2 linked regions of the Homo sapiens genome follow. The protein of the gene in region 1 interacts with the protein of each later gene in a biochemical or structural test. Each region holds a gene or a part of one and is shown in the gene's direction. Other genes may lie near its edges. The genes, in order: MPHOSPH6 and EXOSC7.

Region 1 (5,727 bases):
CCTGTTTTATATAATTATGGTGCAGGAAAGCTAGTTCCATACCAATTACTCCCCTACAGCTAGGGATGGAATAACCTGCTTTATTTTCATCCATTGTGTGATATAAATGTTTCATGTTTCATTCATTATTTGGCCCCTCTTTCTATAGACTGTAACCTCCAGGAGAGCAGAGGCTCCTTTTTTTTCTTTTTTTTTGGAGGTGAGTGTTTGACACTGTCACCCAGGCTGGAGTGCAGTGGCACAATCTTGACTCATTGCAACTTCCACTTCTGGGATGCGAGCAGTTCTCCTGCCTCAGCCACCTGAGTAACTGGGACTACAGGCATCCGCCACTGTGCCCAGCTGAGGCTCTTTTACTGGTGGCTGTTTCCGCAGTTTGATTTAATACACACAGTTTGGTTTAATAAGTGTTTGTTGCATAAGGGAATCTTTATGAGAATCAGAGCCTACTCCGGCAAACAAGCCTTAAAAGCCACATGTTTGCTTTCCTGCCATGCTTTAGGGTTTATGGCCAGGCTGGAGATAGATATGTCACCTTGGATTTACGGTCATGTGGTGGTGACTCAGCAGAGAAATTCTGCTGCAGACAGAAACATCCTGGTCCAGGGAACGCAACCTGCCCCAATGCCATCAGTGGTGTCGTGCTCAGCCCCGTCAGCAGCAACAGTGGTTTTCCTAGGGTCATTCTCTAGCATGATTTTGGTTCTGGTGCAACCACCTAGCGACCGTTATTTCTGCCCGTCTTCCAATTCTGCCCCTTCAGCCTTCCCGGTGATTCTGAGATGCCCAGTACAGCTGGCTCTTTGTGTCACAGATTTTGATATCTACAAGGGGTCCTGGAACCAGTCCCCCTTGGAAATGAAGAGCCTACAGTGTTCTTACAGTAAATTCCTTCTCTGCTGAAGTCATCCAGGGTCAGCCTTTGGTGTTTATAGCTAAGAGCTCTGACTGATAACACTGTTAAAGCTGCTCAAGCCTCTGATTTCCCACTACTTCTCCTGGATTTGTAATAAGAATTTGGTGGGGGCCAAAATCTCAGAAGTCACCACTAAAGAACTTATCCATGTAACCAAAAAACCACCTGTTCCCCAAAAACTATTGAAATTTTTTGAAAAAAATCTGTGTATAAGTGCACCACACAGCTCAGACCTGTGTTCAAGAATCAACGTAAATGCAAGTACAAAAAAGACTGGAAGGAAATATTCAAATATACTAACAGTCCTTTTTATCCTCTTGGTAAGGAGCTTACAGGCAGTTTATAAACTCATACTTTATTCTGCTTTCCAAATTACGTTCCTTAAAATGTGCTGCTTTGATAATTAGAGAATGGAATTTTTGAAATCCCTGAGAACGAAAGACAAAATATGCCAGAAACTTTATTAAAATGATTTGGAGTAGTGTGTCACTGTATACTGTATGTGTATTTTTACATACATATTATTTCCTTTCTGAAAAAGAATTGGAAAAAAATATGGTGAGGGGATGTAAACACAAAAGAAACTTTGCTTCAACTTTGGCAAATTCAAGTTTATTGTCAATACTTTAGATCTTTATATTATGTAGATATTTATGCAAATTAAATGTGGTGTTTAAGAGAGGCTGTGCCTCTAGCTTGCTGCTCTTGTCTCCTAATGCCTTTGCTGACCAAATTAATCAGATTTTATTTTTAACCCTAAGTTAGAAATCTTACTGTATTTTTACTTCATTCTACTGAGAACCATAGGTTGATTATTTTTTTTATTCAAAGTGTTGGCTTTTGTTTGCTGTGCTTTATATATGGAGAAATGCTATTTTTATTTTCCCATTTAGGAGTTTCATAATAGAAGAGCAGAGTTTCTTACTATGTGAAGATCTTCTCTATGGAAGAATGTCATTCAGAGGATTTAATCCTGAGGTTGAGGTATTAAATATAATTGCTTCAAATTAAAAATTTTTCCAATTGAATTTTTTTCTGCTAATAATTGGGCTTAGGTGTTTCTCCACCAGGTACCATTTCTACTCATTATATAGAAAATAACAAGTCTTGAAATATCGCCATAGCTATTTAAAGAAATTGGAGGCATTGCAGTCTAGTTTTATGGTAGAGGTGAGTAGATAATTTCATATAGCAGTATACAGCCCTTGACAGAGCCACCATAAATATTAAAATTTCAAGTTGTGTCTTTTACAGGAACGTCAAGATTTTATTCATATCATGCTATTATGAAAAGTTATTTTCTGGCACCTATACATGTATTTTTTCTAACGGAAAAATGTTACTTTAGAATTATGTCATTTGACTTTTTAATGGACTGTTGTAATCCAAGCTTGTAAGTAGATTTTTAAATGAATCCTTTCGACAGTTTGTTTGAAAAATGAATATTTGCCTTATAACTGAGCTATTCATTTGAATTTTCCTGCTCCAGGATAGAGAAGCAGACCTTTATTTAACAAATATTCATTAGAACTCTGGCTCATATGTTAAAAGCCATCCTATCAAGTACTTGATGAACCAAATGGACACATGAGATATAAATCTTTAGTTTGGTAAATATTACTTGAAGCCAGTGTTTCTTGCCCTTGGCAGTGTTAACATTTGGGGCCAGATAATTCTTTGTGGTGGTGGCTTTCCTAAGAGAATGACGAACCACATCCCTGTCCTCTGTTCTCTACCAACTAAATATCAGTAGCACACACACACCCCACCCTCCTACCCAGCTGTGACAACCAAAAATGTTTCCAGACATTTTCACAGGTTCCCTGGTGGGGAAAATCATCCCCAGTTAAGAACCACTTCTCTAGGAGCCACAGTTAACTAAGCCAATTGCCAGAGTTTATTGAAAGATTCTAGGTTAGTTTTCCTTTTCTTTTTTGGCGGAGTGGGAGGAGGCATGTGTGATAATTAAGGTGTTATGTTAGAAGTGTTTGTTTTTAATATATGCTGGTCTCGCTTTGACTTTCTTTAATTAAGCTTCAGATTGAGAAGGAGAGGGGCTGGGCAGTGGGGTGAAGAGGGAAGAAAAAGGCAGGGATTATGAAGATGTGGTATTCAAAGAGTAGGGTTTGGATAGGCGAGCATTCCAAAGTATGTCTGCTGCAATGGGAAAGGAGAGGTGCCACTGCCCGCAGAAATTGATGGGGGGCAGGGACGGGTGTTAGAAAATGGCCCTAATTACTGGATTCTGAAACACTGAATACACTCCCCCTAGGAAAAGGTTTTAAACTATTATCACTCTTTTAAGCCTTAGAAAAACTAGTTAAGACTGATTTCTCATCTTTTATTCCTTCTCCTCTTGCTAAAAAGAAGAGATTACACATTTAAAAAAAAAAAGGTCAGAGGATAATTATCACAAAAAGGTTTATGTGAAAGAGTTGGAGGAGAGACCCTGTGGTGCATGGATGTTACATGGGATGCATTATCCACTCTAAAGTTTAGGAGGGTAAGGCTGAGGTGCAGATTCCCTCCATTAAACAGGGCCAGCCTTCCACTTCTCCCACCTCCTCCACTCACCACCACCACCACCAAGAGATGCATTTAAAATTATTACTGACGACTAGTGTTTCTTCCATATGGCTTAAAGATGGGTGGGGGAAGTTCAGGGAAAATCTGAAAGTTTATTATTTCTTCCCCCACTCACCGGAATGTGTCAGCAGTATGCCTGCTTTAAATATGAGTAACTAATACTAAGATTTATGATCTTAAATACACTTTAAATTCACCCTAAGTATAATTCAGTGGGGCTTTGCCTTACTATTTTTTTGACTCAGAGCTTACTTCTCTTACACCATTGTGGTATCAAGTATTACAGAGAGTCCCTTATCAATTTTGACTAGTTCTCTAGATTATTTGACTTCAGTTTCTCTGCCTTCAGGTAAGTTTGACATCAGTTCCTTTCACAAGCGTTTTCTAGCCTGAAGGTCAGCACTGGTGTATTTTTCAGAAATTGATGCTTCAGATGAATGCTAAGCACAAAGCAGAAGAAGTTGAAGATGAAACAGTAGAGCTTGATGTGTCAGATGAAGAGATGGCTAGAAGGTAACCGTGCTGCGCAGCAGCCTTCTAATCTGGACCTAGCATTCATTGGCTCTCCCAGGAATGCTCCTCTTACCCCACAGTGCACGGCAGCTTTCAAGGGAGTCCCCCAGTAGGACGATGACTGTGATCGGCCTTCTCTTAATGGCCTACGGGGGCCACAGACCTGTCTCAGGCTGCCAGTTGAGGGCCCATTTCCAGAGCTGCTGGAAATGTGTATTTTAAAATGTACATCTCTATTTATTTAGGGTAATGCAAACACCAAAATGGCAAGGAATTTAATCACTCTTAGAGAAGTTCATAAATTGTTAAATCAGATGGTTTCTTTTAATGATAGTTTTCTTTTTCGTAATCTTTTTTATTGCATATTTGGTCTGATATTCTTGACAAGGCTTGATCCCTACCTTTTTATTTGAAATTAAACGTGTGCTGCCTGTCCTCTTGACAGATATGAGACCTTGGTGGGGACAATTGGGAAAAAGTTTGCCAGAAAGAGAGACCATGCCAATTATGAAGAAGATGAAAATGGAGACATAACACCAATTAAAGCAAAGAAGATGTTCTTAAAGCCCCAGGATTAAGATGGATGCCTTAAGCGATGGCCCAGGGGTGCTTGGTGGAAGTCAGCAGGGCATCTGGAGCTCATCCCAATGGTGTCTCTATAGTTATTAATACTGTAACGTTTACTTGTAAAGAGATTATCATTTTAGAAACATGCTGTTTTTGAAACAGATGTGTGATGGATGTTGTACATCCTTTGCTTCTTGGTATTCATTCAGAGTGGATTTTTAGCCCCTGATCTACAAATGTACATTGTTACAGGGCTGCTTCCTAAAGATTTTTTTTACCTCAGGTTTCTCTTAATATAGTTCTCCAGTCACTGACCTTGAATTGACTTACATAAACTACTGCCAATGTTTAAATTGCCCTTATGTTTATATTTATTATGTCAAGCCAATTCGTACATACAATTTGGAATCAAATGTCATAAGAATTTATTATATAAATTTATCAAGAATAAAAATGCCTCTCCAGCCTTAAGTATTTACATGCTCCCAGGTCATTGTCAGTTTATGGTATTATGTTGTTTTATTTAAAGCATTGAATTGATAGAAAAATTTGCTCTGTAATAAAAATCTACTTTCACATACTTTTTATATTTTCTTGTACTTTCAAATAACAATTTTAGTCTAATTCAGTAATATAACTTTTTTCCAAATAATAACTTTAAAAAACAGCCATTGATCAGAATATAGTGATGTATTAGGTTGAACCATAAGAAATTGCCTTTTACAGGTCAAAAATAACCTTTAGTTTCTTACGGTATAACCCAACAGAATTTACCACTGACCAATGGTACCATCTCCTAGTCTGAACTCTATTCTAAATGCTAAGTACAGAAAGAAGCACATAGAATTAAGTGTGTGTATGTGTGTCTGTCTTTCTGTCTGCAGATAAGTACCTAGGACTTCTGAGAACTACTGATTTAATTTCGCTCCCAGGAAGTGAATGAGGTACATGTCTCCTCTCTCCTCAAATCTCTGTAAGGAAGGTTTTATTGCTCTGTGACCTCAGTTCTCTGGTGAGTTATGAGAAAAGATAGGACTTTGAAGTTAATCTGGCCTTTTTTTTTTTTTTCACTGTGAGTATGAGAATGATGCACCTCCCAACTCTGGGAAGTAACGAGTTCTTCCCAGTGCCTTACCAGCACCACA
Region 2 (7,164 bases), on another chromosome or scaffold:
TTTACACCATCCAAATAAAGGTCAGGATGCAGGTGAATGAGCCTACCATGGAATCTCAACTGATTCAGTTCTGAAATCTCCTAAACTTTTGTTGCGTTGGTTATAGAGTGCCGGCAGTGCACCTTAAGCAGTGCCTGCCTGAACTCCTGTTGCTTGTATAGTCCTAGTCATTTTGTGTTTTACTTTTCACCTTTGGTCCAGTAACGTCCATTTCAGCTTCTGATGTCACTTTCCCTTCAGCCTTTGGTTCTTTTACTATTTCAGGGAATATTTCATCTTGTTTTGGTGATAGTTAGAAGCAGTTGAAATTAACCTCACGATGTGTTGAGGATTCAGTTGCTAGTAATGGTAACCAACACATCGGCTCAAGCAAAACAGTATGGATTACAAGGCTGCAAGTGTTTCTCCAGGAATCCTAATCTCTGCTGGTTTTTTTTTTCCCCCTCTTTGCTTTGTTTTTGTCTCCCTACAGATTGGTTTTCTATTTCTTGGGCCAGTGGTAGAAAAAATGTGGTTCCTTCCCAGTTCCTCTGTAAAAGAGACCATTCCTTCTCGTTCAGTTCTGAACTCATGTTTCCAAGAGAAAGAAACTCTAGTTCTTTTAGGGGGTTGAGGGAAAGGATGGACAGAATAATTAGGCTCAAACATGGCCACTAGAGGATGTGTCACACTTGGGAGAAGTCAGTTTGTGAGAAGGGAGGGTGGATCATTTTAGTTATTGGCAGAAAATGGAACCCTCTTCAGGTAGTTCAGGAGACTTTTATGATGGGACTCTAGAGCAGTATGGGGGGGGTTTCAGGGAACCAATAAGAGATGTTGAGGAGCCCCAAGACAACTACTGGGAGTGGCTACTGCCCCTATTCCAAAGGGGCCAGGGGAGGAAACAGTATTACCACATTTCAGTGATAGCTGGAACTGTGGAGGAAGGGCTGCCCAACATAAGTCATAGTCTTCGATAGATGCAGGCACTATCAGAAATGTGGCCACTAGATTGGGGGTGAGGGGCACCCTCTGATCTGGTATCTTCCACTGGACAAACCCAACCAGAAGCCAGCAAAGGGAGTCTAGGTGATACAATTTGAGTCAACCTGGTGAACAGATCCCCTCTCCCAGGGGAGAACAGAGAATCAAAAAGGTGGATTAAATCGGTATTTTGATAAATAATTTGATTGGTTTCTGTTAGGTTCTCTTTCAGTCTTTGAAGGCTATATCCCATTCTTATTAGGTACATATTATAATTTTTATTTCATTGAATATTTACAACAGTTCTGAAGGTAAATGTTATCTCTATAGATGAGGAACTGAGCTCGGGCAGGTTGAGTCGCTTGTCAAGGTGACACAGTAATTGAGTGGTGGCACTGGGATTTAAATCCAGACCTGTCTGATTGCAAAGCCCATACTTGACTCTGAGGCCACCTTCCTGCTGCAGTGAAAGTCATTTCTTCCATTTCCTCAGTAGGGATCCAGAGATCAAGGCAGGAGAGAATCTTTGCTTCCTCTACCTCCTTTTCTTTCCCCCTTTCTCTAAAAGCTTGTGGGGAAACTGGAAGGGAAAGAGAAAGTTCTAATTGACACCTCCCACTCCCCAGTTTTTCTAGAGCTTAAATAGTATATGGCATATACTGCTGTATTGTTTTGGTTGCATTTTTCCCACATTGAGTATAAGTTCCTTTAGAACCCTATATTGCATTTCTTTGTATAGCTTTTGTCTTACTAGTATCATAAACGATTTACTCTGCCCATACCATGCAGAACTTGGAGCAGACTTCAGAATTTTTAGAATCTAGGATTTATCCTCTTTTCTGGCTTACTGGGCTAGATGTGTGTTTTCCTCATCCATGAGAAGCCATTGCTAACCTCCCTCTTAGCCCAGGGATTCTGAAGCCTTGAAGTGCATTTTACTCACCTACAAAATACAGATTCTGAGGCTTTACCCCAACATTCTGAATCAGACTCTCTGGGGCTGGGGCCTGAGAATGGACATTATCATAAAGTGTTGGGAAATTTGGGGGCAGCCACCAGACATTGGCCCATGGGTAAGCCACTGACCAGAGATAAAGAAATCTCTGCTCTCTCCTGCTGAAGTCATATGGTTTCCTGCCTCTTTTTGAATGAGGCTTTGGAGTCAGACTGAGCAGGCACCTTCACCATTTACAATAAGTGGTTTTACTTGCATAACTGAACCTGCTTCCCTTGTGTAAAATGGGGACTTATGCACCTGGAAGTAGAATGGGGTTATGAGGAATGATGAGATAAGAGATGTCAAGCACTTGGGCTGTGGTTAACACAGAAAAAATGCTGGCTCCCTTTCAAGTTTGTTTTTCCATCAGAAGTGTGACTTTGTCTTAAACCATCCACACTAGATCCCCAGCCTTCATAGTGACCTCATTAAAGATTCAGCCTGTGGCTCCTGAGAATTAAACCTCTTTTGATTTGAAGGAATCGGGATTTTTCAATTATCTCAAGAAAAGGGATAGGCCAGGTGCAGTGGCTCACACCTGTAATCCCAGCCCTTTGGGAGGCTGAGGTGGGAGGATCACCAGAGGCCAGGAGTTGGCATCCAGTCTGGGCAACATAGCAACACCCTATCTCTAAAAAAAATTAGGTGTGTGGTGGTGTGTGCCTGTAGGCCTAGCTGCTTGGGAGGCTGAGGCCAGAGGATCGCTTGAGCCCAGGAGTTGGAGATTTCACTCCAGCCTGGGTGACAGAGAGATACTCTGTCTCTTAAAAGAAAGAAAAAGAAAAAAGAGAAGGGGGATCTGTGGCAAGAGCTGGAAAGTCCCCAGACAGCTCTGAGGTACCGCCTCTCATGGGCTCCGTGGATTATCTCATGGCCTGTGTGGCTGTCTGTCTTTATCTCTAGTGACATCTCTGCTTTTCTCTGCCAAGATTTATCCCTTCTCTGCAGCCACTTGCTGTCCAGCTTCCCTTCTTTGTAGAATCTGCCTCTGCCCAATACCTTTACTTTCGTGTGGCCTCTCTGGGCTCCTCCATATCATGACCTGTCAGCTCCTCTTTAACTCCTTTCTTCTCTCAAGTGTTTCTCAGATCAGAGACCAGATTGCAATGAGAGAATCAGTTTGGTCTGGTAGTATTTCACGCCAAAAAGAGTTGGTCACCCTTTGGATTATATGCCTTTGGTTCAGGCACCTACCCCTGGTCCTGGCTGTTGGGGATGGATGGTGACTGTTATGTGGCCTTTACAGGGCTTTAGGCACAATAAAGCTTTCCCAGGTTCAGCCTACTGAGTGCTATGGCTATGACCTGGACATTAAACTGGCCCTCATAGGTTCAGACCTGGCCATGGCAATTGACGAACCCTACCACAGGGCTCTTGGAACCCTGTGAAAGCCATTTTATTGTATGTTCTTGGCTGTTGAAGGGAGTTGTAGCCCAGCTGATGGCTTCCATTTCTTTTCTGTGGATCTTGCTTTCATCATAAGCATTGTTTAGGGGTATAGCATGGAAGAGGGAGATCAGGGCCTCAGCCTGGTTTTCAACTATGAGATTGAGCAGTCAGTATTCGGTTGCTCAGTCTGGCCATGACAGAATTGGAGCCAGCCCTCAGGACTCTTGATTTTTAGCTCTCTGCCCTTTCTGTTTACAGACCCATGGCACAGAAAGCCTTATGCCCAGACACTGCAGGATGCAGAGTTATGGAGCCATATCCTTTCAGAGGAATGCCTGGCTACTCAACAGGGTTGGAAAGTCAAACAAGGATCAACACCTACTTTTGCCTGCTGTGTGATGGGCCCGAGCCTGCAAAGCTGGACCAAATGTGGCCCCTTTCCTAAGGGCGGGGGGCAGTCACCTTCTAGTAGGGGAAGGAATTTAGTCTCACTTCTCCTTTAGGAATCTGGAGTATTAGACAAGTCAAAGCAAGTTAATGAGGGGTTAACATAACCTCAGAGGACCACTTTGAGTCTAAAGTCCTTCCAGATGTGTCAGATTGGTAGCGCCAACTTGTCAGTTTCTATTAAGAAGTAATAGGACTGGGCTTCCTGGGTGTGAGGGAAAGTAGGTCTGTGCTTAAATGTCCTTCCACTCTGTCACAAACAGGAGATTGAAACTTAGGTGCCTCCATTCTTATCTGTAACCTCTCTCAGGGTTGTTTTTGAGGATGCAGTGAGTTAATGCATGCCCCCAGAAGCAGGGGAAGGGAACTGCTTTGGGGGGACTCCTATGTGTTACACTGAAGGACTCCTTTAAATGCTTTATGACGTTTCTGTTCTCTTGTAACTCTGTAAGGTCGGGGTTATCCCTGCTTTCTAGATGAAGAAACAGGCTTAGAGCTATTTAGGTCAAGGTCACAAAACTGGCATGTGACAACAGAGATTTAAGTATAATTTGGAAGGTGGCTGTTTCCACCACACCACACCCTACTGGTAGGGTTGTTGTGATCACATGGGTAACAGCTGTGAAAGTCACCAAGAGCTTTCCTGGCATCCAGAAGCCCTTGATCTAGAGGCACATCAGTCTCCTCTGCTGAGAAGGAGGGGACACCACTCCATGCTGTTGACATCTCTTGAGTTTTAAAATGGAGCTTTTACTTCAGGGTAACTCCTATTTAAGTGTTCACACATGGATTAATTCCTTTGCTCGTGACTGCTGCAGATAAATAAAAACTGTGGTAGGGCACCAGGCCCTGAGCTAGGCCAGGCAGGTTTGGACAATTTCCTAAGCCTTTTATAAGGAAAACTGGGTTTAAAAAAAAAAGTTGCCCTGGGTACAGTGATTCATGGACTGGTTAGGTTGGTTTTTTTGGTTTGTTTTCCTCCTATCCTTTTTTTATATGGAAAAAAATTATGCATGCTTGGAAAGGAAAATTTGTAGCTTTTCATTTATCTTTTACTTATCACCTGAGCCTTTCTCCAGGAGGCAGAGAGTGAATTAAAGGCTGGAAAAGCAGTATCTGATGAGGCTCAGTTTTCTGACAGCCCACCAGCCCCTTCCTGGACCAAGTACATTTTCACTACAAAGAGGTGTGACTAATCTTTCAGAGCAAGTGATATTTTAGAAGCAGTAGTTGGACCAGATGTGGTGGCGCATGCCTGTAATCCCAGCACTTTGGGAGGCTAAGGCAGGAGGGTCACTTGAGGCCAGGAGTTTGAGACCAACTTGGGCAACATAGCAAGACCCCATCTCTACAAAAAGTAAAAAATAAAAATTAGCTGGGCATGTTGACATGTGCCTGTAGTCCTAGCTACTCAGGAGGCTGAGGTAGAAGGATTGCTTGAGCCTAGGAGTTTGAGGCTGCAGTGATCACCACTGCACTACAGCCTGGGTGACAGAGTGAGATCCTGTCTCAAAAAAAAAAAAAAAGGAAGAAGCAGCAGTAGTAAACCCTGTGACCTTGTGGCCAGCCAGTTCATCCTGTGAAGGAGGTCTCTGCTGAGTCCTTTTGTAAAGTGAAGACATCCTTTAGAATGCAGTGGACTGTGTAGCATAGCGGTTAAGAGCTCTGACTTGAGGCTTAAGTGCTACTTACTGGCTGTCTGAACTTGGGCCATTCATTTGACATCTTTTAACCTCAGTTTTCTCATTTGTAAAATGGAATGAATAACACTATCGTATAGGATTATTGAAAAGATTAAATGCATTAACTGCAGTATTCCTTGCACATTATCTGGTATATAGTAAATGCACAGTAAATAGCAGCTGCTATTATTTATTGCAAATAATTACAGCCATTTTAATTTATAGATCTGTAGAATTAGAGAATCACTTTGAGACTAATTTAATCTCCATCTTTTACAAATGAGGAAACTAATCCAGAGAGGGAAGGGGCTTGTCCTAAGTCAAGTGGCTAGTTAGTGCCAGGAGCTGGCCTGGAACCATGAGTCATGTTCCTAATGATTGTTCATACTTACACCATATTTACACCCCACAAAGAACTTCTTGTCAATAACCTTTCTGGGCTGGGTATTCACTTTCCTAGCTGGGGAGTGGGGCACATGGAGGTGGAGAGGGCTGGAGTGTTAGAGATTGAGCTAGAAAGCCTTCAGGTTCTATGGGTGAGGTTGGGAAGAGACACAGTTACATAGTTATGGGTCTTCCAGTGAAGAGGGATCACCTTCTGGAGTTCTATCCTAAAGGCTTACTCTCTTAGACTTGAAATTCTGTTGCTTTTTGAATCCATCTCCAGACTCAAGATAGGGATATTGTGTCTGGAATTGGTGGGTTCTTGGTCTCACTGATTTCAAGAATGAAGCTGCAGACCCTCGCGGTGAGTGTTACAGTTCTTAAAGGCGGCGTGTCCGGAGTTGTTCCTTCTGATGTTCAGATGTGCTCGGAGTTTCTTCCTTCTGGTGGGTTCGTGGTCTCGCTGGCTCAGGAGTGAAGCTGCAGACCTTCATGGTGAGTGTTACAGCTCTTAAGGCGGCACACCTGGAGTTGTTCATTCCTCCCGAGGTGGGTTCGTGGTCTCGCTGGCTTCAGGAGTGAAGCTGCAGACCTTCGCGGTGAGTGTTACAGCTCATAAAGGCAGTGTGGACCCAAAGAGTGAGCAGTAGCAAGATTTATTGCAAAGAGCGAAAGAACAAAGCTTCCACAGTGTGGAAGGGGACCCAAGCGGGTTGCCACTGCTGGCTCTGGCAGCTTGCTTTTATTCTCTTATCTGGCCCCACCCACATTCTGCTGATTGGTCCATTTTACAGAGAGCCGAGTGGTCTGTTAGACAGGGTGCTGATTGGTGCGTTTACAATCCCTGAGCTAGACACAAAGGTTCTCCACCTCCCCAGTAGATTAGCTAGATACAGAGTGTAGACACAAAGGTTCTCCAAGTCCCCACCAGAGTAGCTAGATACAGAGTGCTGATTGGTGTATTTACAATCTCTTAGCTAGACATAGAGGTTCTCCAAGTCCCCATCAGACTCAGGAGCCCGGCTGGCTTCAACCAGTGGATCCTGCACTGGGGCCGCAGGTGGAGCTGCCTGCCAGTCCCCTGCCATGCACCCGCATTCCTCAGCCCTTGGGTGGTCGATGGGACTGGGCGCCGTGGAGCAGGGGGCAGCGCTCCTTGGGGAGGTTGGGGCCACACAGGAGCACCCATGGGTGGGGGTGGGAGGGCGGGGAGGCTCCCGCATGGCAGGCTGCAGATCCGGAGCCCTGCCCCGTGGGAAGGCAGCTAAGGCCCAGCAAGAAATTGAGCACAGCAGCTGCTGG

Evidence for each region.
Region 2: the proteins of MPHOSPH6 (region 1) and EXOSC7 form a complex in vitro, tested with the Homo sapiens proteins (one study listed by BioGRID).

Annotation. Positions count from the first base shown.
Region 1 is NC_000016.10:82,147,597-82,153,323, reverse strand, and holds the end of MPHOSPH6 (M-phase phosphoprotein 6), read left to right. Parts: intron 1-1,809; coding exon 1,810-1,900; intron 1,901-3,920; coding exon 3,921-4,015; intron 4,016-4,460; coding exon 4,461-4,593; 3' UTR 4,594-5,162; downstream 5,163-5,727. UniProt on the Homo sapiens protein: RNA-binding protein that associates with the RNA exosome complex. Involved in the 3'-processing of the 7S pre-RNA to the mature 5.8S rRNA and play a role in recruiting the RNA exosome complex to pre-rRNA; this function may include C1D.
Region 2 is NC_000003.12:44,979,160-44,986,323, forward strand, and holds part of EXOSC7 (exosome complex component RRP42), read left to right. Parts: intron 1-7,164. UniProt on the Homo sapiens protein: Non-catalytic component of the RNA exosome complex which has 3'->5' exoribonuclease activity and participates in a multitude of cellular RNA processing and degradation events.